Linked DNA regions of Homo sapiens. The protein of the gene in region 4 interacts with the protein of the main gene of each other region in a biochemical or structural test. Each region holds a gene or a part of one and is shown on either strand. Other genes may lie near its edges.

Region 1 (5,027 bases), on a different chromosome or scaffold from region 4:
AACACAGTGGAAGGCAGGAACGTAACTCACTGCCTTTTAGATGCAAAGACTAATAGACACGTTCTCCTATCTCGACTATCTTTGTTACCTGTTATCCTCAAACATAAATTATTAGGCACCTGAGAGGTTGGAAGACTACCGAAAATGAACTTCATACCTTCTGTATGATTATTATCTTAAAAAGTTACCGCATTTTTAATCTCTTTTATAACTTTACTTCATCTACAACTAACTTCACTTTCATTATCCCAAATGATCAGGTATTAATTACATGAACTGTTAATGTATACACAGACCTAAAAATCAAACAAAAATGTATTGCCCAGTTGTGTAGGATATATATTTGAACCCCATGACATTTCCTAGTGCTTTGTGAGCAATCCAAATTTCACTTAAAAGAGAGGTGTCAATTCTGCCCATGCTCTGGACTATGTTTTTAAAAAACATACAAAAAAGACTGACAATAATTGATCTCTTATAAATTAATCAAGAAACCTAAGATTAAAAATTCTAAATTACAATTTTATTTGTATTTAAAAATACATTGGAAATTCTGCATATTCCCATGATCAACCTTATTTTCAATGCACATTACTTAAATTTTGATGACACAGTTGATTCTGACAAGTCCTTTTTCAAGCTGAACACCAAAATAGGGAAACTCCTGTACATTTCCATGGGCCCTGTTCCCATTGATGTATACTGCTTCCTTACTAACAGTGAGGGATGACTTTCATCAGTCTTTTATCACCTGAACAGTCTTCCGGCCATAATGATAGTAACTATAAGCTGATGCAGCTGTGGTGAAAGCTGTAAAACACCTTTTATGGAAGAAAAGAAATAAAATGTAGTTGTCAAGTCTAAAAAATAGTAGCAACGGGAATCATAATGAATACATGCAATGAATTTAAAATGTAAAAATGAATTTAAAAAGTAAAAAGGGCTCTGTGGTGTAATTTTTCTTAACTACAAGAGTCTAAATACACTGCTTTTCTTTAAGAGTTCATTTTAATTAGTAACGTCAAACAAAATTATTCTAGATAATGAGCCCTACAAATTACTACTACTAGCAACTGTCATTTTTTACTCGGGCATCCTCTAGGTGTCTTACATTCTCATTTTATTCTTACAACGAACTCATCCTCCAGAAGGACTTCATCCTCCAGAAGGACTCATCCTCCAGAAGGACTCATCCTCCAAAGGACTTCTCCAGAAGGGGGAAATGGAAGACCCGGGTAACTTGCTCAGGGCTTATCACAGAACTATGTTTGAGCCTGACTTCGTTTGAACTCTAAAGCCCACATGCTCTTTCTACTGCCCCATGCTTCTCAGGGTACCAGACTCTTATTTCCTGCAGCTTTTGAGAATTCTAAAGATACCTGAGTCATTTTAAATAAATTTCAGCTTTCTTTACCAAACTACCCTTAACCGGATTCTCCTTGAAATGACATCACCTGACACCCATGGCATGCTGCATGCCCACAGCTAGATTACTTTTTAGTGCGCCCACGCACTTCTGCTTTTATTAGGTGAGGCAGAATCAAGATTCCCTTTTGTTGGATCTTGAACCTGTTCATGCCACTTTGATATTCTAAATTCATACATAAACCAATGAAATATATGTGTTAGAAAAATTGCTATTTCTAGCTGGACGCAGTGGCTCATGACTATAATCCTACCACTTTGGCAGGCCGAGGCAGGAGGATTGTTTGAGGCCAAGAGTTTGAGACCAGCCTGGGCAACATAGTGAGACCCTGTTTCTACAAAAAATAATAATACAAAAAATTAGTGGCTGGGCACAGTGGCTCACACCTGTAATCCCAGCACTTTGAGAGGCTGAGGCGGGTGGATCAACTGAGGCCAGGAGTTCGAGACCAGCCTGACCAACAAGGTGAAATCCCGCCTTTACTAAAAATACAAAAATTGGCCAGGTATGGTGGTGGGCGCCTGTAATCCCAGCTACTCAGGAGGCTGAGGCAGGAGAATCGCTTGAACCCGGGTGGTAGAGGTTGCAGTGAGCTGAGATCAGGCCATTGCACTCCAGCCTGGGCAACAGAGCGAGACTCTGTCTCAAAAATAAATAAATTAATTAATTAAAAAAAAATAGCCAGGTGTGGTGGTGGCACATGCCTGTAATCCCAGCTACTCAGGAGGCTGAAGCTGAAGGATCGCTTGAGGCCAGGAATTCAAGGTTACAGTGAGCTATGATCATGCCACTGTACTACAGGCTGGGTGACAGAGCAAGACCCTGTCTCCAAAAAAATAAAATAAAAATTTTTTTAATTGCTATTTCTGAAAACTACATTGGATGCTTTAGAAAGACTCAATAAAGGTGACTTGATTAAAAAAAAAATACTGTCTCTCTCTTCATGGGTTCCTAGGGGAAAAAAATACTGTCAAAATAAATAGACAAGATGATTGTGAAAAGACTAGGGAAAATATCTAAACAGTTCTTAGACTGCTTTGCAAATGTTTTAAGTTCTTGCATCACCTTAAAGAAGTAAAAAATGAAAATCAGAGAGGTTTGTATTATGGATGTAGTTTATCCGAGAAAGAAAAAACTCCCACTGATGGACCTACACTCAAAAAGCCTTCATCCTATATCAGAAGGTATAAGATGAACTGGGATAAATGTACACTTAAATATTTTTAATTAAAATAAAAAGTTTAGAGTAGTTGTCATTTTTTAAAAGACTGCCTGGCTTAACTGACTGTGATTAGCCACCACTTTCTGGTCCAGACTGTACCAAGCAAGATAATTTTAATTCTAGTTAAAATTGTGCCAAAATATAATACTCCAATGTCAATGTGACTATTTTGAACTCTGAAAGCGTGAATTTGACACACTTTTAAGATGATAAATAAGCAATTAGTATAATAAAATTCAAACTCCTCTCTCCAGTTTTCCCTCCTACAACACCCTTTTCAACAGGCTGGACTCAGCTTCCCTACCCTCTCTCCTACACTCTATCTCTTGGCTTAGGCCCTGTCTTTCACCTAGTGGTCTCCTCTCAGTCTCTTCCTACACACAATCCACTTCATGCAACAAATGCCACTTCCTTCCTGAAACTGTCCCTCTTCTTCCTACGAAGTTATCTCTTCCTCCAAAACCCTTAACACATTATCAGTACCTTTTATCCCTTTTAATTTGTATGAAAGCTAACTTCTCCATCTCATACTTGGCAGGAAGCGTCTTAACAATGGTATCAATCACCAAATATAGCCACAGCTTTACCCAGTCAGTGCTCAACAAATGCTGTAAGAACAAGGTCATTCTAGGGCTATCACCATAAGTCATTCTGTTGACATTCTAAGAGAGTGATTCTAAATTTAGCTTACCATAGTATCTGAAGATAAATGCTGTCAGCATAGTTGAAAACTGGAGCTGCCAAAGAAGCTGCCACCAAGATTAACTGGACTGCTGTATTCACCTAAATAAAAAAAGAAAAAGTTCTAAGTGAATAGTGCCAACTGGATCCTATTTCAAGCTTTCAAGACAAAAGCACAGCCCATCACACTATAACATGACATACCCTCAGCATGCTTGCTGTTCATCTACACTATCCCTGCCCAATAAGCTTGCATTCACAGGTGAGCACACACAAAAGGGTCAGCTTCACTAACTGACCCATCTGTCTGCACAGCTGCCCTTAAGAGCAAGAGTAATGACAACTGTCAGAAAATACCACTACCTTGAATTCTCACAGCAACTCAAAAATGTTACAAAATTATTTGCCTTTTTTCCAACTGCCCATTAAAATGGAATACGAAAATAACTAAGCTACCTCTTCATGGGTAAAAGGGTAATGAGTTAGGTGACTTGCCTGCAGTCACAGCAGACAACAGAACCAAAGCTGGAACCTAGATTTCCTGGGGCCTTATCCGATGCTCCTTTCTTGCCTACCTGTCAAACCTTGTGAGGTTAGAAAATTAAAAGGCACTCATCTCAGGACAGATGCAGTGGTTCATGCCTGCAATCCCAACACTTTGGGAGGCTGAGGCAGAAGGACTACTTGAGCCCAGGAGTTTGAAACCAGCTAGTTAAAAACCAGCCAAGCATGGTGGTGTGCACCTGTACTCTCAGCTACTTGGGGGGCTGAGGTGGTAGGATATTTTGAGCCTGGGAAGTCAAGGCTGCAGTGAGCTATGATTGCGCCACTGCACTCAAGGCTGGGCAGACAGCGCAAGACCCCGTTTCAAAGAAAAAGCACTCATCTCCATAAAAGAACCTCTCTCAAGGAGGAAATGAGTAGGCTTCCCTACACTAAAAGACAGCACTGGGGAGAAAAGAAAATAGAACAAGAAATACACTGGAGACTCCCTCTATCATCATGAGAAGCACTCCATGGAAGAGTCTGCAAAGTATGAAAAAGCGAGTGAAGCAGACGAGCACCTCTGTTCTATCACCCGTTCTGCAGCCAAATGAGAAGGATTCTACTTCATTTAAAAAATAAATAATAGCCAGGCGCAGTGGCTCACGCCTGTAAGCCCAGCACTTTGGGAGGCCGAGATGGGTGGATCACCTGAGGTCAGGAGTTTGAGACCAGTCTGACCAACATGGTGAAACCCCGTCTCTACTAAAAAATACAAAAAAAAAATTAGCTGGGCGTGGTGGCGCATGCCTGTAATCTCAGCTACTTGGGAGACTGAGGCAGGAGAATCGCTTGAACCCGGGAGGAGGAGGTTGCAGTGAGCCAAGATCGCGTCATTGCACTCCAGCCTGGGCAACAAGAGCAAAAATTCATCTATAAAAAATAATAAAATAAAATAAAATTAAATTAAATTAAAATAAAATAAAATATAAAATATAAAATAAAATAAAATGTAAATTTTATCCTAAGGGCTTCCTATAAGGGTTTAAGGCACTTGTCCCCGTACCTCTTTAAGCACTTTCCATGTAACGCTACACTCAAATTGCCATACAATATAAACACAAGTCACTTGAAGCCAAACAAACAAACAAACAAAAAACAACAAAAAAACCCCAAACCCTATGCATGTAGATGAAAGTCCACCCCAGGGAGTTC
Region 2 (5,027 bases), on a different chromosome or scaffold from region 4:
CCCTTCCTCCAGATACATGGTGTGGGAGCGAAAACTTGCAAGGGTCCCCTTCCTGTACCCTATCTCTCCTCCTGGGGCCAGCAGCATGACACCCTGGGCTGTACCACACACTCTACCATCTCCCCTTTACCACAGCCACATTTTCTTCACAAATTAGAGCTTCTAAGTCATCATCCTTCCTCACTCCCTCACCCCTTCTATGAGTTTGGGCCATAATTTTGAAAGGCACAATCCTGAATGTTGAAATTGGGAAAGATGAAAGTCCCAAAAATATAATTATGGAAAAAAAATTTAAAAATTTTAAGACCTTTATTTACATTTTTAAGAGAAACATACAAAACACAACAGAGTGTTTTACAGGCCACTTAACACAATAAAAGAGGCAATAGTAACATACATATTTTTGCAAGCATAAACACTCAGATATACTAACAACTGTAGCATGGGGATAAGTTATAAGCAGACAAACTATATTCACAAAGAAATAGATCAAAAGGGAAATGTATAAACGCGTATTACTATGATTACTAATTGTGTGCACCCAGCTTTATAACTGTGGCCATCTGAAACACCGTGATGGACAACTTAAATCTTTTGATGGACAGCTCAAAAACCAGCGAGTCACCATTGCATATGCAGTCACCCAAACCGCCGAGATCTCAAGAAATTGTACCTTTCACAAATGCAGATGTACAGAAAGGACATCTCTTTATTTACTGAGGAAGTTTCAGCGTTTTTAACACACGCACAATGCATACACACAAAGTCAACATTGTGATAATGCACCTTCCTGGAGTCAAATTTGCAAAAAAAAAAAAAAATGCATAAAACAAATGAGAACTCTCTGAAAGTCTCTACACAATGTATACATCTATTATTGGAGACAATACGAAGATTAAATATATAGCATAGTATATTGGCACTATGTGTGAAAGGGCAGAAGTAGTACATGATTAAATAATTTGGCAGGGGAGATTTTTTGTATCTTTCACCTGCATTTTCACTTCTTCTATAATCTTCGAAACAGTCGTTGCACTTGTATTTGGAGAGTGGTTGTGGTCTACAAATTTTCTAAGTGTATGCTGTCCATTTGAAAGTTTGGTTGTTGCTGGGCCATTGCAATTAAGTAATTTTCTGCTAACACAGCACCAGTATAATTAGCTTTTAAACTTTTATCTTTCACCAATAAGTAGTTTCATACACTTAACTTATCACAGCATTTTTGTGAGGGATCAGTTTCACAGATCTCTTCCAATGTGTTGTAAGGAATGCATAAGAATGAATGATATTCGGCTTCCTCAGTACCAAATATGTATTAGTCAGGGTTCTCCAGAGAGCTAGAACCAATAAGATATGTATGTATATGGATATATGAGAGGGGATTTATTAGGAAAATTGGCTCACACGATTATGACGGCTTAGTAGTCCCATGGCATGCCCATCTGCAAGCTAGAGACCCTGGGATGCCAGTAGCATGTCTCGCTCCAAGTCCGAAGGCCTTAGAACCAGGGAAGCCAATGGTTAACTCTCATTTAAATGTGGGTGCTGGTGTAAGTCCTGGAGTCCAAAGGCTGGTGAGCTTGGGGTTCTGATGTCCAAGGCAGCAGAAGAGATCTGTCCCGGATCTCAGAGAGAGATCAATTTGCTTTCTGTATTTGTTTCTCCCAGCCATTGGCCAATGAGATGGTGCCCACCAACACTGAGGGCAGCTTTTCCTCAGCTAACCCACTCATACTCACACACTAACCTCCTCTGGAAACATCCTCACAGAAACATCCGACATAATGCTTTACCAGATTTCCAGGTATTTTTAAATTCAGTCAACTTGACACCTAAATTTTAGTTCACAATCCACAACTTAGCACCCATACGCATCTCTTTAAATCATACTTCATTTCCACATAAGACAATAACAAGGTAATAGTTCTGCCTAACATGATACAACTAACATGGTGCAGATATCCTGCGCACAACCTAAATGTACTAATCCTTTCTCCAGATTTTGACTTTCAGAATTTTAACATTTGGGATTTTAATCTTTTGGGAATGAGATTTTCAGGGTTTTAGACTTTAGGAATTTTGATCTTTGGGGAATTCAACTTTCAGGATTATGATGTTTGGGACTGCATCTTTTGGGATTATGACCGGCACCAATTGTTAGCATGGTCATTATGACGACAACAGCTACTCAAAGCTGGCTTTGACTCCCCACACTCCCCACCTGGCTGTCTTTCTCCGCCTTCCCTTCCTCTCTGCAAGCTTTAGTGCTTGCTGTTTCTTGGTATTTTGTGAGTTATCTTTGGCCTTGAAGAGAATTGTGAATAGAACAATTTTTTGCCTCATGTGAAAGTCGGATTTGTCCTTAATGTTTAGCTTCAAAGAAAGCACGGAACCCCACTGGGCTCTGAGCCTGGAAGACAGGCTGGGTCTCAGGAAGACACTCATGCCTGCAGTGGGACAAGAGCTGAACGAGCTGGGACCTGTCATTCACAGAGCCAGGAGCCATGCAGATAAATCCCCTTCTCTGCTCATCCTGAAAACTTGCCCCTCATGACTTATGCATTACTTCTTTTCATTAGCAGAGGCTTGAGTAAGCACGTGGGTAGGTGGCTCTGTGAGGGGTATCTGATTCGAAGAGTATATATCTGCAGGCTCGATGACACCACTCTGAGATTCAGCAGGGTAGAGACAGAGATGGAGGCAGAAACTGCATGTCCCTGTGAGGTTGTACATTTTCTCTCTGCCCTGCAGTTCGTTGCACCTTGAGGACACAGCTTTCCTCTGAGCCCGGCATGGATGAGAAGGGGGATGATGCTCAGTCTAGGCTGCAGCCTCTGGAATCGAGGAAGGGCAAGACAGAACTCCTAGATCCCACTGTCATCAGAAAATTAAACATGAATGAGCTAAGCCCTAGGCCTGAGTTGCCTACACTCCAACCTGAGTTTCTACACACACACACACACACACACACACAGAGAGAGAGAGAGAGAAATAATGGCAATTCTGAGATGCTCCCCTGTGTGGGCCCTGAGTGGACTCTGAATAGAAGATCACAGGATGCGAAGCCCAGTGGGTGCGGAATACTGGTCCCCAGCACAGTGGAAGAACAAATAGAGATAAACAAGACCCTTCTTCCCCACCCAGTCTGTAACCAACCAGCTTCAGGAAAGAGTTAAGTGGGGAAAGTGGTGTTGGGAAAGAAGAGAAATGTTTTAGTTGAGGACTTAAGGTATGAGTTTTGGAGTCAGATCTGGGTTTGAATCCAATGTTGCATTCCTTGGATAATATCTTTGGCCTCCCAGAGTCTGCATGCTCTCCTCTATAAAATGGTTGTTGTAAAGATTAAATAATACGATGTACAGGCCAGGCACGGTGGTTCACGCCTATAATCCCAGCAGTTTGGGAGGCTGAGGCAGAAGGATTCTTGAGCCCAGGGGTTCGAGACCAGCCTGGGCAACATAGTGAGACCTCGTGTCTCCAAAAATATAAATATTAGCAAAGCATGGTGGCCCACACCTGTAGTGTCAGCTATTCAGGGTGGAGGGGCTGAGGTGGGATGATCGCTTGAGCCCAGGAGGTCCAGGCTGTGGTGAGCCATGACTGCACCACTGCACTCCAGCCTGGGTAGCAGAGCAAGACCCTGTCTCAAAAAATATACATATGATTTATATAAAGTGTTCAGCACAGCACCTGGCATATTATAATTACTCCATCAATTGTAGTTATCATCATTACTAGTAGGTGAGTCCTGCAGAGATGTTACCTGATGCACAAAATGTGACCCAAGTTCCTTTGCCTAAGTTTGGGTGACCAAACTTTTACTCCAACTGTATGTTGGAGGGAAGGGGGAAGGTAGAGCAGTAAAAGGACATACCTGCTGAGGACCATGCTTTTGAAGCACACAGTGTTTAAGCTGAGAGCCAGAATAATGTCCTAGTTTAAGGAGCCGGTCTAACAAATGTGGCTCAAGGGGATGAAGTGACTTGCCCAAGGTTCCCACTGATGAGGCTCCAGCAGAGCTGGGGATGGTACTTTGGTTAAGGACATTGCCTCTCTAATATGTCCCCATGGCAGTGTTGGACCTCTTCCCAGAGGGGTCTTGTTCTCAGGACCTTGCCAAGGTATAAACCAGCTGGACAACAGCGGGGCATTAAAAAGGCAAATGTTCCTTGTGTCTCTAGCGCTGGCACAAATATATAGTGAGGGACAGGGATGAGGCTCCAAATGAAGTCACCAAACCCTTGCAGCCATTATCCCAGACCTTCAAACAGCAGGATGGATCCAAAGGCTACATATTCATCTTGACTATGGCACCATCAGAAAACAGATGAGAAACAAACACAATGTTTTTACCAGAAGAACAGGTTCTTTGTGGATTATTTAGAATTGTGGTCTAACTGGAAGTGTCAGTTTTACTTGCAAGTTGCTATATCTTGTAATCATTTCTTGGTCCTTTAATGTATTTTTAATCAAGAATCTATGATAAGGAGGGCACTGCTCATTGCAGGGCTGTTTCCAGCTGTGGCACAGCACTGGAAACAGCATGGAGCAAGTAGCCTGAGAAAGGAAACGGTAGGCCCTGGCTCCCCAGGACAAAAAGGACAGGATCCTCTGCAGAAGAGATGGGCCACTGCAGCCCCTTGGAGAGGGAGGGCAGGGTTAGCTTGGCATTAGGAAGGCCCCATAGAGATGAAACCAAATGTAGATCAATAACACAGATTTTACAAGAGACTGGCCAGCAAGCCTAGCCACCTGCCAGCTTCATAACCAGACTTCATGGCCTCTCGGATCTAACAGCTACGACTCTGCCAAGATGTGACAGGGAGTCCAGGGCAGGTGGCCACTTGGAACCCTGGGTTCCCTCTGTGTACTTTAGGGATGTATAATGACTTATACTAGGCCAAGGCAGCTAAACATCCTGAAACCCTGATAATAGTTTTCTACCGTATTAGTTACACACACAATAAAAACAATAATGATAGTAACAACCACAAAATGCTACATCCAGGAACTATGTTAAGTGCTAA
Region 3 (5,027 bases), on a different chromosome or scaffold from region 4:
AATATGAAATCTTAACTATCCTCTTTCTTCAGCAAGTGGTTAGTTATATGCCACAGCAGATAATCTCTGGTAAACTGTTCAATACAGATAATCCCATTCTTAGTCACAGCTCTAATATCACATTCTCATAGGTACAGTCACATCACTTATTCATAATTTATCATAATACAGCCCAAGGGAATTTTTTTTTTTTTTTTTTTGAGATAGAGTTTCATTCTTGTCACCCAGGCTGGGGTGTAGTGGCGCAATCTCTGTTTTCTGCAACCTCCGCCTCTTGGGTTCAAGTGATCCCCCTGCCTCAGCCTCCTGAGTAGCTGGGACTACAGGCGCCCAACACCTTGCCTGGCTAATTTTTGTATTTTTAGTAGAGATGGGGTTTCACCATGTTGGCCAGGTTGGTCTCGAACTCCTGACCTCAGGTGATCCACCCACCTCGGCCTCCCAAAGTTCTAGGATTACAGGAGTGAGCCACCGCACCTGGCCAGGGAATTATCTTAAGGGCAATATTCATTTGGAAGTATAAGTTAAGATGTATGTGTTAAATGTCTTCAGAGCTATTTGTTTAAAATTATTGATTTTTTAAAAAGCAGCTATAACTGCTTCAACTAATATATCTCCAAAAATAATTCCCTAATATTATCTATAATACCTAGCCCATATTCAGTTAACCCCGGTTATTTATAAGATGACTTTTAAGAAGTATGTGAGTCATTATATTTAGCTGTATGGCTCTTAGTCTTTTCATATCTAAAATAAGCCAACTTAAATATTTTAAAAATCGCTCTTAAAAATATCAAAGAAATGTAGCCAGCACATCTTCTTTATAATAAAAATCAGAAAGATATAGAAAGTAGAAATATTTTTATAGCTTCCATCATTGTGAGCATGGATGCCTTCCTGATATATTTTTCTATCTCTATTTACTTCCCTATTTGTTTTCTTTCACATGGTTGAGTTCATTTTGTATGCAATTCTCCCTTTAATAATAGGCAGTGCTGTATCTTGCTTTGTAACTTTAATGTATTTGTAACTTTTAATGGCTGCATAATATACCATTAAGTGAGTGTACCACAATTCTGCAAACATAATTCAATTTTCTGTTAACATTTAGGATTTTCCCCAATTGTTTGTCATAGTTAACAATAATGTAATAAATACTTATTTTGAAAACAAAAGCAGCAGCTATAATCAACTTTTTAAGACAAATCCCACGGCTGAAATGGAAGGCACAGTTCTGTGGATATCAGACTATGCTCAAGCTGTAACTTTGCGAGTTGGCCAGCATCTACGCCAAAGCTTTGAGGGCCAAAAAAGTTACACTAAGTATATATATATACACATACACATACACACACACGTACTGTATGCATATATAAAGTTACATATACTATATAGTGAAGCTAAAATTAGAAAACAGACCAAAGAAAAGAAATTTGAGTGCAAACTGACTGTAATAATGCTAATGCTGATGAGAAGACAGCTCATACAAACCAAACCTATCTTGAAGGCAGAATGGTAATAGGGAAATATGCTATTGGGAAAGTTCTGCAGAGGAGTTGTTCCCCAGTAGTGGTTCCTATTCGGTGGCCTTTGCTCTTCTAGATGCTTAGAGAAATCTGCACCAAAAAAGCCCTTCTGAATTCCATGACAATGATGAGGATGTTGCTGTCATTTCCTGGTTTGTTACTAATTATAAGGCATAAACTCAAGTGTACCCATTCATAGGATTAAAATGTACACTTTAATGTAGTTATATATAAGACCTACCTCTAAAGAACAGATCCAACACAAATCAATTTTCTCATAGTTCCACCCTCAATAAACCCTTAAAATCCTTGTGAAATTGTTCTTATAACCTGCCTACAGATACCATGAAGGAAATTAAAAACAAAATAAGCATCCTTAAGAATGGTTTAAGGAGAGGGGTCAACCAGCGATGGTATTTTTTTTTTTTTTTTTTTTTTTTGGAAATGGAGTCTCACTCTTGCCCAGGCTGGAGTGTGGTAGTGTGATCTCAGCTCACTGCAACCTCCGCCTCCTGGGTTCAAGCGATTCTCCTACCTCAGCCTCCCGAGTTGCTGGGATAACAGGTGTGCGCCAAACCACACCCAGCTAATTTTTGTATTTTTAGTAGAGATGGGGTTTCTCCATGCTGGCCAGGCTAGTCTCAAAACTCCTGGCTCAAGTGATCCGCCTGCCTCAGCCTCCCAAAGTGCTGGGATTGCAGGCAGGAGCCACCACACCCAGCCAGGGGATAGTAATTTGTTATCGTTTCCTATTTCTGTGCTGTGGGGAAAAACCCAACATGTCTTTTGTAATTAAAAAGAGAAAAAAAAAGAAAAATAAATTACATAGAGCAGCAGTCCCCAACACCTTCCCAGCACTTTTGGCACCACGGATTGGTTTTGTGGAAGACAATTTTTGCATGGATGGGGGTAGGAGGAGGAGGGATGGTTTTGGGATGAAACTGTTCCACCTCAGATCATCAGGCATGAGAATCTAATGCTGCTGCAGATTTGACAGTGACAGGAGGTGGAGCTCAGGTGGTGATGCTTGCCCAAGGCTCACCTGCTGTGCAGCCCCATTCCTAAGAGGCCACAAAGCAGCTGTACCCCTGATATAGAGTATTGAGATGGCTAGTTTATGTAGACACCAAAACCAATTTTCAGCTTTAAGAAAGAAAACTGAGTCATTCAGAGATCTTTTATTTGAGGGGAAAATGTATGACCGTCACTACAAGAAGCTAATCATTTTCATTTAAATGGATGATTTAAAACTAAGAAGTTTTCAAGAATTTCAGACTACAATAAAAAAATTCAGATTTAAATCCTGCTTTCCATAGCTTCAATCCTAAACCAAGAGAGTTTCAGGAATTTTAGATAAAGCAAAGATAAATTAAAATAAACCGTTACAACAACCTAGCCATATAAAAAGGCAGTGACCAGATAGAAAGAAAAGCCTTTCCGTGGATATTTTCTCCACCAATTGCATACGGTAAATTTTCCTAAGGTAATTACTTTTTGCAAAACCAATCCAAATGAAGACAGGAGGGAAATTCTCGCCTTAAGCTTCCCCATATTGAGTTTAGGGCCATGATTTCCAAATTGTGTAACAAAGGAGCCTCTTCTGAGGTGATTCGGGACCAACCAGGGGCCATGAGAATCAATCAGGAACAAAGCCACCTGCTTCCAAAGAAGCTGCAACCATGATAGCACTGTTTTCTGATTTCCATACTGAGATTTGGCATATGTATGCAGTTATTTTTAAAAAACCTGAAAAAACATTTACCTGGGCGTATAGTGCATAGCCTTCGGCACACCTTGGAAATTTCTTTATGACCTCTTCAAAACCTTTCATAGCTGCTTGGATTTGTGAAGAGTTGTTTCCCGTATATGCCTGGCGGTACTATAAAAAATCAAAACAGGCCTGTCAAATCAAGAACTCAAAAACTCATGGAATGTTAACATAAACACACAAAATTACATAAATATTTCCAAAAAAACAGGTGATTTGCTAACATAATCTGCAGCATCCAAAAGGGTTCCAAGTAGGTATCTCAGCAGCAGAGAGCCAAAGGTTATGTACAACTAGGACTCCATGGCCACTATACAATTTCAAGATGTTCAATACTGTAGAAGAGGGCATACTAATTTGTAAGAAGTGAACTTTGCAATAAATGAATTTTAAATCTAGTAAAATTTTTGTCATTTTCATTTATAATATATATTTGTGACATAATTTCTTCCTTTAAACTGAAAATTCTTTTACGACTCCAGCCATACAGCTAACTGGAAGTATCTTATTTTACTAGAAAAATTTTTACTTAAAAAAAAAAAAAAAACAACCTTTTGAGCTTTGTGTTTCTGAATATTAAGAAACAGTTCTATGAAGCAGGGGTGAGAGAGCAAGTTACATGGTGTCATGTTTACAGAGTGTTTCCTCAAAATGTTTTTGCTCTTTATATTGATTTATGATGAAGCAGGGAGACCAGTTCTGTTTAGGGAAGTATAAAATCAGGGACAAACATCTATCAAGATGAACCCAAACAAATGTCCAGAGAAATACAAGAGCTAGGTATCAATCAGCACCTTTTTTCCTCAGTAGTTATCCTTTGGGAAAGAAAGAAAAAGACGACTTTGTAGACAATGAGATACTCATTTTTGTTGACGCTGGAAAATAAAAGTGATGTTTAGGAAAATACAAAAGAAAGTAGTACCTACCAATGCAAAACATTTCTGTGCTTGTGCCAGAGCAGACTCAGGTCTTAACCTAATACATTCATCAAAATCTGCCACTGCTTCTTCAACTTGATCAAGGAGTATTTTCAGCTAAGAAAAAAATACGTAAATAAATGTAATTCAACTAGTCCAGTTAAGTATGTTCAGTGTCTCATCTCTATTATTACACCTCAGCATAATGCTGAGCATGTAGTAGTAATTCAATATATAATTACTTTCTAGAAACAGTGATTTAAAAATCTTGAAATTTAAAAGGCAAGATTCCAAAACATAAAAATGGTATCCAACTTATAGAAAGGACTACAAGCCAACCATTTCTGCCCTGCAATTCTGATCACTATTAAGCAAGAAACCCCTTCTTCTAGAAAACTAAACATCCTGTACATTCTAATATCAAAGCAGGTTAGACATCAGATAATTACCTTTCAAATTAATCTTCAGACACTACCAGTAAAGATCAAAATGTCAAGAATTTTAAGAGGTTATCTCAACACTTAACACCCTTCTGAAAGAAATACAGTCATGCATATTTACATTTCAATCAACAGACCACATATACAACAGTGGTCCCAAAAGATTGTAATACTGCATTTTTACTGTACCTTTTCTATGTTTAGATATGTTTTAGACACACAGATACTTACCATTGTGTTATAACTGCCTATAATATTTGGTATAGTAACATGCTATACACGTTTGTAGCTTAGGAGCAACAGGCTACAACATACAGCTTAGGTGTGTAGTAGGCTATACCATCTAGGTCTGTAGAAGTACACTCTATGATGTCCA
Region 4 (4,267 bases):
ACATATTATAGTATACACAACATATATACACATATACATATATATACACATTATATATATATTTTTATAATATAAATTTTTAGAGCTTGCTACTAGCACACTCCTGCTAGTTGCCCAGGATGGGGTGCAGTGTTGCAACTACAGCTCACTGCAGCCTCAAACTCCTGGGCTCAAGCAATCCACCCACCTCAGCCTCCTAAGTAGCTGGGACTATCGGCATGTGCCACCATGCCTAGCTAACTTTTTAATATTTTGTGGGAACAAGGTCTCACTATGTTGTCCCAGCTGGTCTTCAACTCCTGGGCTCAAGAGATTCTCTCACCTTGGCCTCCCAAAGCACCAGGATTATAGGCATGAGTCACCATGCCTGGCTTCAGAATTTTTTATTTTTTTATTTTTTATTTTTTTTGAGACGGAGTCTCACTCTGTCCTCTAGGCTGGAGTGCAGTGGCGCGATCTTGGCTCACTGCAAGCCCTGCCTCCCGGGTTCACGCCATTCTCCTGCCTCAGCCTCCCGAGTAGCTGGGACTACAGGCGCCTGCCACCATGCCTGGCTAATTTTTTTGTATTTTTAGTAGAGGCGGGGTTTCACCATGTTAGCCAGGATGGTCTCGATCTCCTGACCTCATGATCCGCCCGCCTTGGCCTCCCAAAGTGCTGAGATTACAGGCATGAGCCACCCCGCCCGGCCCAGAATTTTTTAAATGTGAAATTAATTCCAGCAAAAGTAGCCAGTGAAAACAACTTTTTCTCCCCCCAGTCAGAGTCTTGCTCTGTCACCCAGGCTGGAGTGCAGTGGCGTGATCTCAGCTCACTGCAACCTCCGCCTCCCGGGTTCAAGGAATTCTCCTGCCTCAGTCTCCCAAGTAGCTGGGATTACAGGCGCCCACCACTGCGCCCGGGTAATTTTTGTATTTTTAGTAGAGACAGGGTTCCACCATGTTGGCCAGGCTGGTCTCAAACTCCTGACCTCGTGATCCGCCCGCCTCAGCCTCCCAAAGTGCTGGGATTACAGGCATGAGCCACAGTGCCTGACCAAAAAAAATTTTTTTAATGTGAAATTAATTGATAACTAATAACATTTTCAGGCATAGGAGGGTGAAGTGTGCGAAGAAGGTGTGTGTGAATGGTAAGTTTAGGAGGATCAATCTCCTCAGTTAAAAAAGCCTCTTTAGTTTTAAGCAGGATTAGTCAAATTTCCCATCCTTAGCTTCTGCCAGTTAAGCTGTGGCAAAAGACAAGGTCAGGGGCTGGGGACTAGGCCAGATGTCACCTGTCACCCCAAACTGGCCAGAGCTCAAACATGAGACAGTGGTGATGAGCAATAAGAACTGGGATGGAAACCAGGAAACCCAGGAGCCACTGCTTGGCCCTAACAGCTGTGTCCTTGGGCAAGTCACTCCCTCTTCCACCACCTCAGCCCTAACCTGTAAAATGCAGGGGCTATGCTAATTTAGTGAGTGGTTCTACACCCCCAGGAAGAAGAGTGACCTCCCTGGAAGAAGATGGAATTCTGCCAGCGGCCAGGCTTCAAACCTGAACTGCACCGCTGGCTCCTCCCTGGCTCTCCAGCCTGCCCGCCTACTCTGCGGCTTTTAAGACTTTGCCAATCCCCATAGGGAGCCAGGTCCTCAAAATAAACCTGCCTCTATATAGACACATCCTATTGATTCCATTTGGAGAACCCTAATACAGACTTTGGTTGGGCAAAAAGAGAAGTCTTGTGCTATTTTAAGCATTAAAAAACCCTAAGAACCCTTGTGTATCCAGTCAGCAGGGATAACTCTACACAGGTAACTAAAATGTTAGGACTGTTTTTCTCGCCGTTCATAGTTTTTACTGCGGTTTCAGCTCTGTCACTACTAATCCTTTGGTTAAACGGCGGAGGCAGCCTGGCTCAGTGGTTAAGGGCACTGCATTTTATTAGCTGTGTGACTTCGAGCAAGTCCCTTCACCTGAGGACTTTCCTTCTCCATAAATTAGGGACGGCAACTACCTCAAAGGGATAGGAATGTTATGATTTAGTTGTCCGTACATTTTAGAAAATTTACACAAAGCCTTTTGCTGTGCTGCGACAGGAGCTGTAATCGGCAACATGTCTTCATTTGAGGAAGGGAAACATTAAAACAAATGGGAGGTGCTGGCTTTATTTATAGCAGCCGATCAGTAATGGTGAAATAGATGAGCTTTAAGGACCCTCGCCTCGGCCCTCGATCTGCTCAGAGCCCCGCCTCCACACCTAGCCCCGCCCCCACCCAGCTGAGGACCCGCCCCCGCGCTTAGCTCCGTCCTCCGCTCGGCTTAGGACCCGGCCCCGCTCACCTGGATCTCCTGACAGGCCGAGACCGCCCGCCGGCTCTCCGCCTGTTTTTCCTCGATGAGGCCCAGCCCTAGCCCGAAGGCCAGAAAGACTGCCCGGCCGCAAGGGCCCGCGCAGCCCCAGGCCCGCACCACGAACTGCCGCTGCAACCGCGCCGCCAGCCCGGCCACCGACTGGCGGAAGAAGCGGAGACGGTTAGGGAGCCCGAGCCCGACCCTGCGAGGCTCCGCGCCCGGTCCTGCGGCCCAGCCTGGACGCTCCCCGCGGACACAGCCCGCCGCCGGGCCCGGCCGCCCCAAGCCGTAGGCCCGGCCGGGCTTGCCCGTGAAGCGCAGCAGCAGCGCTCGACCCAGCTGCAGGCCGCGGCCCAGCGCCTGTCGCACCGCCATGGTGGCGCCGCGGCCCGGTGCCCCCGCAGCCGCCGCTGCCGCCACCACCGGCGTCCCCCGCCGGTCACAACAAACTTGGGGCGGTGCCTCTGCGCAGGCGCAGGCGCTGGTGGGCGGGGCCGGCCCCCGCGGCAGTTCCCCGACTCGGCGCGTGGGGGCGCTATGCTGGTACTGGCGCCTCTAGCAGTGACTTTCCCTTTGCACTTTGGACCCACGTGGAGGGCTTGCCGGTTCAGGCAGGTCCTGAATGTGAACATCACTGGTCCTGGGCAAAATCGAGAAGTCGAGAAGGGAAACTGATATTTTTTGCCAACCATGGTGCCAGACCCTTTACGTCTTTTAATTTATTTAACAGCTCCACCAACAAGATAAAAATGCCGTTTTTATAGATAAGAAAACCGAGGCATAGTAAGGGGCAGCATTCGAGGTCTTGTGAAGGTACCTAGCAGAGCTGAGCTACAGTTCACATTGTCCTAACTGTTGAATGCTTGCCCTCCTCAATGCCGTTAGGCTGCTGTATGTGTCCACAGTCTCAGGGGTTTTGAAGACCCCAAGACAAATCTCACCCAAAAGACACAATTTATGAATGAGTGTGCTGAGGTCCCAAGATAGCAGCTTGCCCAAAGCCACACCGTTTGTTTAATGGCATAGGCCTGCTCACCACAGAACACACACACGCACGACACGCACATTACTGAAACAGTTTGCTGTCTCCTGGCCAGGGGTCCACCCCATAGCCAAGTAAGCCCAGGGGACAGAACTCTTCAGACAAAAAATCCCTTCTTCAGCAGCAGCTCCTATCTACATGACCTTTGACTTCATATTTAAGGAGAAAGGGATTTATGAACAGAAGCCATAGTCTCTGGCTTCAGCGGCAGGGAGACAAGATGGTGGATCCCCATGCCATTACCCCCAAGACCCAGGGCCTATATGCTATAGGAAAGGAATGTGACGGACATTTGAAGTCAGTCCCCCAGGGAAAGGCAAGAATGCTGTGTGAATCTGCCTAAGGGCAGGATTTATGGTAAGTACATACTTTTACACAAGGAACAATAGATAAACTGGAAATCTTAGAGGCCTTCCCTAAAAGCTGGTTAATCAGAAGTCAACTTGGTTGGCCGGGTGTGGTAGCTCACAGCCTGTAATCCCAGCATTTTGGGAGACTGAGGCAGGTGGATCACTTGAGTCCGGAAGTTCATGACCAGCCTGGCCAACAAAACACCATCTCTACTAAAAATACAAAAACTAGCTGGGCGTGGTGGCACACGCCTGTAATCCCAGCTACTCAGGTGGCTAAGGCAGGAGAATCGCTTGAACCCAGGAGGTGGAAGTTGTAGTGAGCAAAGATCACACCACTGCACTCTATCCTGGGCGACAGAGTGAGACTCTGTCTCAAAACAAAACCAAAAAACCAACAAAACACATCAACTTGGTGGATTAGCATCCAAGACGGGGTTGCTTTAGCTTGCACTGTGTGTGTGTGTGCTGGTCTCTCTCATAATCTTCCTTAAGGGAGGAATTTTATGGTTCTTGTGATATCCAATCATATTTATTTGGG

Evidence for each region. The genes of interacting proteins can lie anywhere in the genome.
Region 1: the proteins of PINK1 (region 4) and CRLS1 form a complex in vitro, tested with the Homo sapiens proteins (one study listed by BioGRID).
Region 2: the proteins of PINK1 (region 4) and SIAH3 form a complex in vitro, tested with the Homo sapiens proteins (one study listed by BioGRID).
Region 3: the proteins of PINK1 (region 4) and TOMM70 form a complex in vitro, tested with the Homo sapiens proteins (one study listed by BioGRID).

What each region holds. Positions count from the first base shown.
Region 1 is NC_000020.11:6,032,868-6,037,894, reverse strand, and holds part of CRLS1 (cardiolipin synthase (CMP-forming)), read right to left. Parts: intron 3,432-5,027; coding exon 3,340-3,431; intron 822-3,339; coding exon 737-821; 3' UTR 1-736. UniProt on the Homo sapiens protein: Catalyzes the synthesis of cardiolipin (CL) (diphosphatidylglycerol) by specifically transferring a phosphatidyl group from CDP-diacylglycerol to phosphatidylglycerol (PG).
Region 2 is NC_000013.11:45,840,982-45,846,008, reverse strand, and holds part of SIAH3 (seven in absentia homolog 3), read left to right. Parts: intron 1-5,027. UniProt on the Homo sapiens protein: Negative regulator of PRKN translocation to damaged mitochondria. Acts probably by destabilizing PINK1 protein, hence inhibiting PRKN targeting to dysfunctional depolarized mitochondria.
Region 3 is NC_000003.12:100,369,318-100,374,344, forward strand, and holds part of TOMM70 (mitochondrial import receptor subunit TOM70), read right to left. Parts: intron 4,329-5,027; coding exon 4,221-4,328; intron 3,406-4,220; coding exon 3,289-3,405; intron 1-3,288. UniProt on the Homo sapiens protein: Acts as a receptor of the preprotein translocase complex of the outer mitochondrial membrane (TOM complex). Recognizes and mediates the translocation of mitochondrial preproteins from the cytosol into the mitochondria in a chaperone dependent manner.
Region 4 is NC_000001.11:20,631,991-20,636,257, reverse strand, and holds the start of PINK1 (serine/threonine-protein kinase PINK1, mitochondrial precursor), read right to left. Parts: upstream 2,801-4,267; 5' UTR 2,710-2,800; coding exon 2,323-2,709; intron 1-2,322. UniProt on the Homo sapiens protein: Serine/threonine-protein kinase which acts as a sensor of mitochondrial damage and protects against mitochondrial dysfunction during cellular stress.